Homo sapiens: one gene and its partner. The protein of the gene in region 2 interacts with the protein of the main gene of each other region in a biochemical or structural test. Each region holds a gene or a part of one and is shown on either strand. Other genes may lie near its edges.

Region 1 (3,755 bases), on a different chromosome or scaffold from region 2:
TGTGGTACGTGCACATATTTTTGTGAATTATAAGCCTTGCCTGGATATGAAAAGCAAAAAGAACTGGCTTCAAACTGCACTTAAGCCACGCTGTTATCACATCTTTAACACAAAGTACTTTATATTTGACTTGAACTTGGAGTTTTAAATTTTTTCAGAACTATCCATTTTGGAATATAGAAAGAATTGTTTTTAACTTATTTAAACAAATGGAAGCACTTAACAGGTGCAGACTGGCAATATTTTGGTTGCTAATACTGCTGTTTATGACCCAGTTAAAATTATTGAGAGTTCTAATAATGCAGCAGTATTCTTCTTTCCTGACTTTTAATTTGCCCTTTGAGAATATATCAACTTTTTTATCAGGTAAAATTGTAAATAATTTAGAAATTATCTCAAATGGAATGATATTCTAAGTATATCGTAAGAGAAATTATGAAAGAAAATTGTCTATGACTTTATTTTCAACTTTAAAATAGGCTACCAAAGGAATTCATTCATAACAGTTAACATTTAATACTTTTAAGATGATGAAAAGCCATATAGCCATTGAATTTTTCAAAATCTAAATGGTTGCAGTGACTAAGTTGAAAAGGGCAACAGCTCCTTTTATTTATTTTTTTTTTTTAATAGGCTGTTTCACTTGCAGTGGCTTTTGTGTTGAAGATGCTGAGTTGTTTCTTAAGAACACATTTTCTCTCTGCTTAAACTTACCTGCTTTCTTCAGCTTGCTGCTAAATGGCCTGGGTTTGACTTTTTGATAACTCAACATTTCTGATAAATGGAATAATGTATATTATCTCTTTACAACTTAAATCTAGCTCATTTTTTTAACCATATTGTAACAGAACACACAAATTACTTTGTACTCTTGAAAAATAAATGAAAATTTTTCTCCTGGGTTGGCTTTATTCTACAGGACTTGCCATCAACTACCCAACCAAAAGGACGACAGGTGAATAGATATCCTCTATAGAAACTTCTCTAAACTGAGCAGCTAATAGCCAATCCTTTATTAACCCTTTCCATCCCATAATGTTTGCATTTTGGACCATAACATTTGAGCATTGAGAGCTTGTACCATTTCATTTTAACACATTACACATGACTAATTCTCTATAAAGAATTTTTCCTCACATCTTTGTAGCTGTAATGGTTATTGTAATTTCAACCTGATAATTTTATATTAATGGTTAAGAATTCAGCCTTTGGGGGTGGCTGTGGGCCTGCCTCTGGCATGCAAAAGAATTTTAAAGGTTATAAAATTCTTAGAATTCTAAGACTAACTAAAAAGTTATTCTTAAAATGCTGATGAACATTTTTAAGCAAAAATTTTCTGAAGTTGAAAGCTTTTTCTTAAATTTGTATTTGCATGTGTATTTCTAAAAGCCATTTGCAATGAAAAATAAGAAAAGAATATAAATTATCTTAGCTTCACATCCTGATATACCTGTGTTAGTTCAAACATGAAAAGTTAAGTGCTGCCTAACACTGGCAAGTAACTTTCAAATTGCCAGCACTTTAGAGGTATAGATTTTAAATGCAAATGCAGAGACTTGTAATTTTATAGGCTGGATTGCTGAAAATAAACAGAAAAATCACACAGTGGTTCCAAAGTCTTCAGGTTGGTTTTACAGTGACTTAAACATTAATATTCAATTTTAATTTCAAGAGATAGAATTTTTATGGGATTTTTATCTTGAAATATGGTATTAAAAATAATCAGATTTAGTGTTAAGATATGTATAAATTAGTACCTGATAGAATTCACCCATAATTTTGTCTTAAGACTGTATAATTGATGGAACATTGGGTATGAATTACCTTATCTTAAAGCATTTAAAAAATAAAATAATTCATAAAATGCTGCCATATAATAAACCCTTGAATGCTAATCTATTTCCTAAGTAAACTCACATATCATAAAACTCAGAGCCTTGAACTATGCATGTCTTGAAGCTCTGTGCTGATTTCAAGTGTTACATTGGGGGAAGCTAGGGTTCAAATTCATTTTTATTCTCTCAGAAGAGTAAAATACAAACCTAAAACCTAAATTAGAAAAAAATGAAGCTTTTTTTAACTTTTAAAAAATTGTTTGAGTTACACTTAACTTTATCAGCAATGTGTAGACACACTGCCAGTTGTCATATAAGCATTCTACAGCAAGATACCAACCCAGAGTTCTTGCTAATTTTATATCGTGTGCTGCTTTAGGGTTAAAACCTATCCTGACTGCTAGTATTTATGGCTTAAAGGCTGCCACGCAGTCATGACAACGTATCCATAATGCCAGCATCACCAATGCAGGTTTAAAAAAGAGCGAGCATACTTTTCTATAATTAGAGGCCTATTCTGTTACAGTAAAAGCATAAATTAAGTCTTTATTTTTATTAAACAAGTATTTCAAGTGTTCCTTCCAAATAAAAACAGCAAAGTTTTGAAGCTATACTCATCAAAGATTACTAGTACATTGTTTCTAGCGGTAGAAGTTTTTTGTGTCGTATTTCCATGCATCGTTTTTGCTTTCACCATCTGATGTCCTGTTTGTATTGTAACTGTTGGTGTGTGGTTATGACATTAGAGCTAACTTCTCTTTCACATCACTATGGCATCCTTTCTTACGAACTCCTGTTTTATAGATCTATGTAAGAGCACAATTTGAATATGATCCAGCCAAGGATGACCTCATCCCCTGTAAAGAAGCTGGCATTCGATTCAGAGTTGGTGACATCATCCAGATTATTAGTAAGGATGATCATAATTGGTGGCAGGGTAAACTGGAAAACTCCAAAAATGGAACTGCAGGTCTCATTCCTTCTCCTGAACTTCAGGAATGGTATGTTTTTATGCGTGTTTTGCTTTGCTTGGTTATAAAAACAAAGCCCTGACCATCCATTTTCCAATTTTATATTATTTTAGAGTGTAAAACCTGTTTGATATATTCCTTCCTTTACGAGCCAAACAAAATTTAAATTAGTCATCCAAGAATTCTATATCTTCAGTATCTAGTGAGATCCTAGTTGCAGAGTCAGGGCTTCATTTTACACAAAAAGAAAGGAAGGTCTGGAAAGAGATTGGATGAGCAGCCCTGAGCCAAGTCATGGTCTCACAGCAGAGCCCTCCACTCCTATATGCTGTTATAATTGTTTTAGAATGGCATTAAAAAAATGTACGTTCTCCTTGCCCTTCTACATGCTTTCATGCCCATCCCATTCCCACCACCAGCAAAAAATGTAGGTGCAGTGCTTCAGTGTCACTCAGAGTATTTGAAGATAAAATGTATTTCACTGTTAGAAGGAGGTAGTCAGAAGCTTTGTTCTTTACCTTGCCAGTCCTTTAAAAATACCTTTTCTGCTAGAAAGTTTAAGCCCTAAAAGCAGGCTAAAGTTAGGGGTTTTAGGCACTGTTTTTAACTGAGAGAAAAGGAGTCACAGATCACTGTATATTTTGATAAAATCTATTTCTGCTATTATTGTTACCGTTTCCTTAGTTGAACTGTCTTTTGGAAAATATTGATGGTTTTACCTTTGTTGGTACTTGGGCAATATACCAGATTATTTCTAGCACAAAAGAGATAATGTCTGAGTTTTGTTTCATGTGGCAAAAAATAACAGCCATTAAGCATCCTGCCAGTTCCTCCTAAAATACTTGAACCCAGCTAAAAGAGACCAAAGACATTGAGTCCATAGAAATTTCTACCTGCTTTTATCTATTTTTCTCACTAGTTAAGAGATTTCTCAGTTAATCTCTTTTGC
Region 2 (3,755 bases):
CAGAGTCTCACCCTGCCACCCAGGCTGGAATGCAATGGTGTGACCTCTGCTCACTGCAACCTCCACCTCCAGGTTCAAGTGATTCTCCTGCCTCAGCCTCCCGAGTAGCTGGGATTACAGGCGTGCGCCGCCACGCCCAGCTAAATTTTTGAATTTTTAGTAGAGATGAGGTTTCACCATATAGGCCAGGCTGGTCTCGATCTCCTGACCTCGTGATCCGCTCTCCTCGGCCTCCCAAAGTGCTGAAATTACAGGCGTGAGCCCCTGCACCTGGACTGTTGTGTTCTTAAAATGGAAATGGAGCACGTTTCAGTGTAGATGGGAAAAAATCTTGTCAAGCAGGGAGAAAAGGAACATGCAAGTGAAAGAAGGGCTACTTGAATGTTCAGGATAATACTATTAAGGAAAAACTTGCTAGACTACCCACAGACACCTTTGAAATCACTTCTTCATCATGGTGAAGACCACAGGAAGCTTTGTGCTGAAGTCTTAAAGAGCCAGCATTTTGAAAGAACATGATTCTGTCAGTGTCAACGTCAGGCAATAGTGCCTGATAATGGAGACATCTGTGTCATGATTGCCATGCTCAGTTCATCTTCACTTACTTTTCCAGGAGCTGATGAGGATGTAGAGAGTCCAGAGCTGACAACATCTCGACCACTTCCAAAGATACTGTTGACTAGTGCTGCTCCAAAAGTGGAAACCACGACGCTGAATATACAGAACAAGATACCTGCTCAGACAAAGGTGCGTTCTATTTTCCATTGCATTGCATTATCAGGTTATTACAAATGCTTCACTTTACTGACTGTACACAACAGTCCCTTTTGTATTATTTTCTTCTTTTTGGAGCTACCCATCATGAACTATGTACACAACAGTTCTTTTAAAAGACCCCACTTAAAATTGTGTAAGGACAAATGGTCTTCAGGTGGTGTTATAAATGGCTCTTCCTTACTCTTTTTGATCATTTTGGCATTTACCCACTTATAATCTCTGTCATCCAGGCTCAAATTATATACAACTATTTTTCACATGGCCCTCCTTCTTAAGGAACGTCTGAAGCCCAGTTAAGAAGTAAAGCCCTGTTTCTTTGGTTTCCTGGTTTGTAGGTTACGTAATTAGAAGACTCCAGGTCACGTCTTGAGGTGGTCCTAGTCTCACTAAGTCATTTCTCAGTCTTCCTAGGCCGACCATCAGTACTATGTAATCCTTGACCTCTCTCGATGATGATGAACCTGGGTACATCTGTATATATTCATTTTGAGAGCTGACTTATTAAGAATAAGGTCTTTGGCCTTAGACCTGAGTAAAGTGACCAGCTAATGAAAACTTGGAGCTTGTGATTTTGACCTCGTTAATATTGCAGTTAGCTGACCATCCACTAATAGGTAACCCACTGAAGTTAGAACATGCATATTAAAGTCTGGCAAAGACCTAAGTTTCAAATCCTGGATCCAGTCAGGTTTCTTAGCTTCTGAACCCATTTCCTATGGGCCTTGAAGAAGATGAAATGTGAGTGCATGTAGCATGGCACCTGAGACCTAGTCACCATTCTGTAAGCATTAATTGAATTGGTGGAGCAGAAGAGACCAAGCCAATTCACCAAATGAGCATGTGTAATAACTGTAGTGGTAGACTTTGCAATCAGTGCAGGGGTAACATATGGCTTAAGAAAACTCAGAAGCACAAGCATCCCCTTTTAGAGCTCACCCATCTGTTGATTAGAAATGAGATGCTGCCAAGCTTTAGCAGCAGACAGGGTATGGATATGGAAGGCTGTTTGATGAAGGTGGCGACAGGCCTTCCTTGGAGTAAGAATCATCCCGTCTTCAGGCCAGAATGCATGTGGGCTTTTCTTACCCTTGCCCCAGAGTACCTTTGTTCTTCCTCCTCCTCCATCCTCCCAGTGCCTGTGACTGGAATGGTGAATGGCACCGCTGGATGGGTTTCTGCAGATGTGGAACAGCCAGGAAGCCAGCCCTGTCCAAATTGAAGTGCTTTCTGTAGGACCAAGAAGGGTCAATTACTATTAGTGGTAGACTTCACAAGCCAGGCGGTAGGAAGGCAGGGAGAGCCCTATGAGAACTGAGACCGACTCACCTGGCATGTGCTGGATCCATGCATAAAAGCTACTGTATCAATGTTTCAGTTGAGTGAATGAAACAAAAAAAGAAAGGGAGAAATGAAAAGTGCAGGTGCAATTGGTGGTACGATGACTGCCTCAGAGTGTGTGTGGCACAATTAGCTACTATTTACTAAAGATGCATTTGGCTCTTACCACATTTTTATTTGACCACTTCTCTTGACTAAATCTGCTGAAGTCAGAGACAATTAGGACTCACTAGCTTGAGGGAAGCAACTCTCCTGGGTGAGTTTTGGCTTGTAGTGATAGAGAGTTCTATCCTAAGCAAGACTTAATTTGACATAGAGTTCTGTCTGGTTTGTTAACAGCAATGGATTGACCACTAATTTAAGTTTTTAAAAATTGGTTTTAAGGAAGTAATTGCATCAGATCGAGATAAAAAATGTAGAACTTTGGCAGGTGAATTTAAAAATTAAGGAGCCCAAAAGATTTTAATACATTTATATTCTTACTATCATTTGTGTTCAATATAGTAATAGTAGAAATTCATCCATTTATAGGAGATTTGTTGAGTGCTATTCATTATGTGTCGAACACTGTTTGCAGCACTGATAATGATAATATTGATCATGAATAACATGAATAATAATGATTAAATTTTTCATTTTGCTGTTTATGTGGTACAGCCGAATTGAACATTGCCTCTAGGATACCATTAGTGTAGATTTTGCTTTTCAATTGGTCTCACAGTGGCATTAATGTCACTGTTACGGATATCCTATCTAGTTTGTTGTAAATTTAAGTGACTAAAATGCACAAAAGGGAATCTCGTTATTTGTTTGAGAAGAGCATCACTCATAAGCTTTTACTTCTGTTGCATTTCCATGGCATCCAAACAACCAGACATGGATGTGGCAGATCTTTACTTGGCCTCATTTAATCATCCCTGCTGTCTTTTTGCGGATTCATTTTGCACATACATTCATACAAGAGTGAAGGTATTTCAGATTAGTTCCATATTACCAAATGGTATCTTCTTAGTCAAGCCTTTGCTTCCATACGATAAAACATTTTGACTTAAAAAATGAATTTTCCACCCAGAGCCGCTTGAGGCTTGTGCACCTCCAGCTGCAGGGCGGCTCCAGTTCTGTGGAGTCCTTCAGTTCCCACACTCTCAGATCCCTGGATTGCACGCTTTGTTCAGCCTGCCGGATCAGAGGCTGAGTCAGAGGAAACTGAAAAGATCAACTCTCTTAAATGACTTTAGGGACTCAATCACATGGTGAAACCATATGATTTGTAATAATAATGGGACAAAGATGATATGGATATGGATGAATTAAACTCAGTCTCTCATATTACAGTAACTACTTAGGTCCATTTCATTTCTCACCAGAACTTGTTTACCTCTCTCCCTAGTCACAAACCTGAGTATTCACCTATTTGAGATTTCTCTTCCCTTTTCTAACTTGTAATAGTAAAGCAGTACTAATGAGCAGTGAAAAGGTCTCTAGACTAGAACCCAGATAATCCATTCTCTGACCTGTTGTCTGTCTTTCCACAAGGCAGCCAATTAATGATGGGCTTTTCATGAGAAGAATAGAAAAATCTCAGCAAAAATACTGCCAATGAGCTGCTCTCTTCTGCTTTACTTTGGTACCTGAAGGCC

The links. The genes of interacting proteins can lie anywhere in the genome.
Region 1: the proteins of SDC2 (region 2) and CASK form a complex in vitro, tested with the Homo sapiens proteins (2 studies listed by BioGRID and IntAct, with this or other methods).

The regions. Positions count from the first base shown.
Region 1 is NC_000023.11:41,552,800-41,556,554, reverse strand, and holds part of CASK (peripheral plasma membrane protein CASK), read left to right. Parts: intron 1-919; coding exon 920-955; intron 956-2,639; coding exon 2,640-2,836; intron 2,837-3,755. UniProt on the Homo sapiens protein: Multidomain scaffolding Mg(2+)-independent protein kinase that catalyzes the phosphotransfer from ATP to proteins such as NRXN1, and plays a role in synaptic transmembrane protein anchoring and ion channel trafficking.
Region 2 is NC_000008.11:96,601,782-96,605,536, forward strand, and holds part of SDC2 (syndecan-2 precursor), read left to right. Parts: intron 1-613; coding exon 614-747; intron 748-3,755. UniProt on the Homo sapiens protein: Cell surface proteoglycan which regulates dendritic arbor morphogenesis.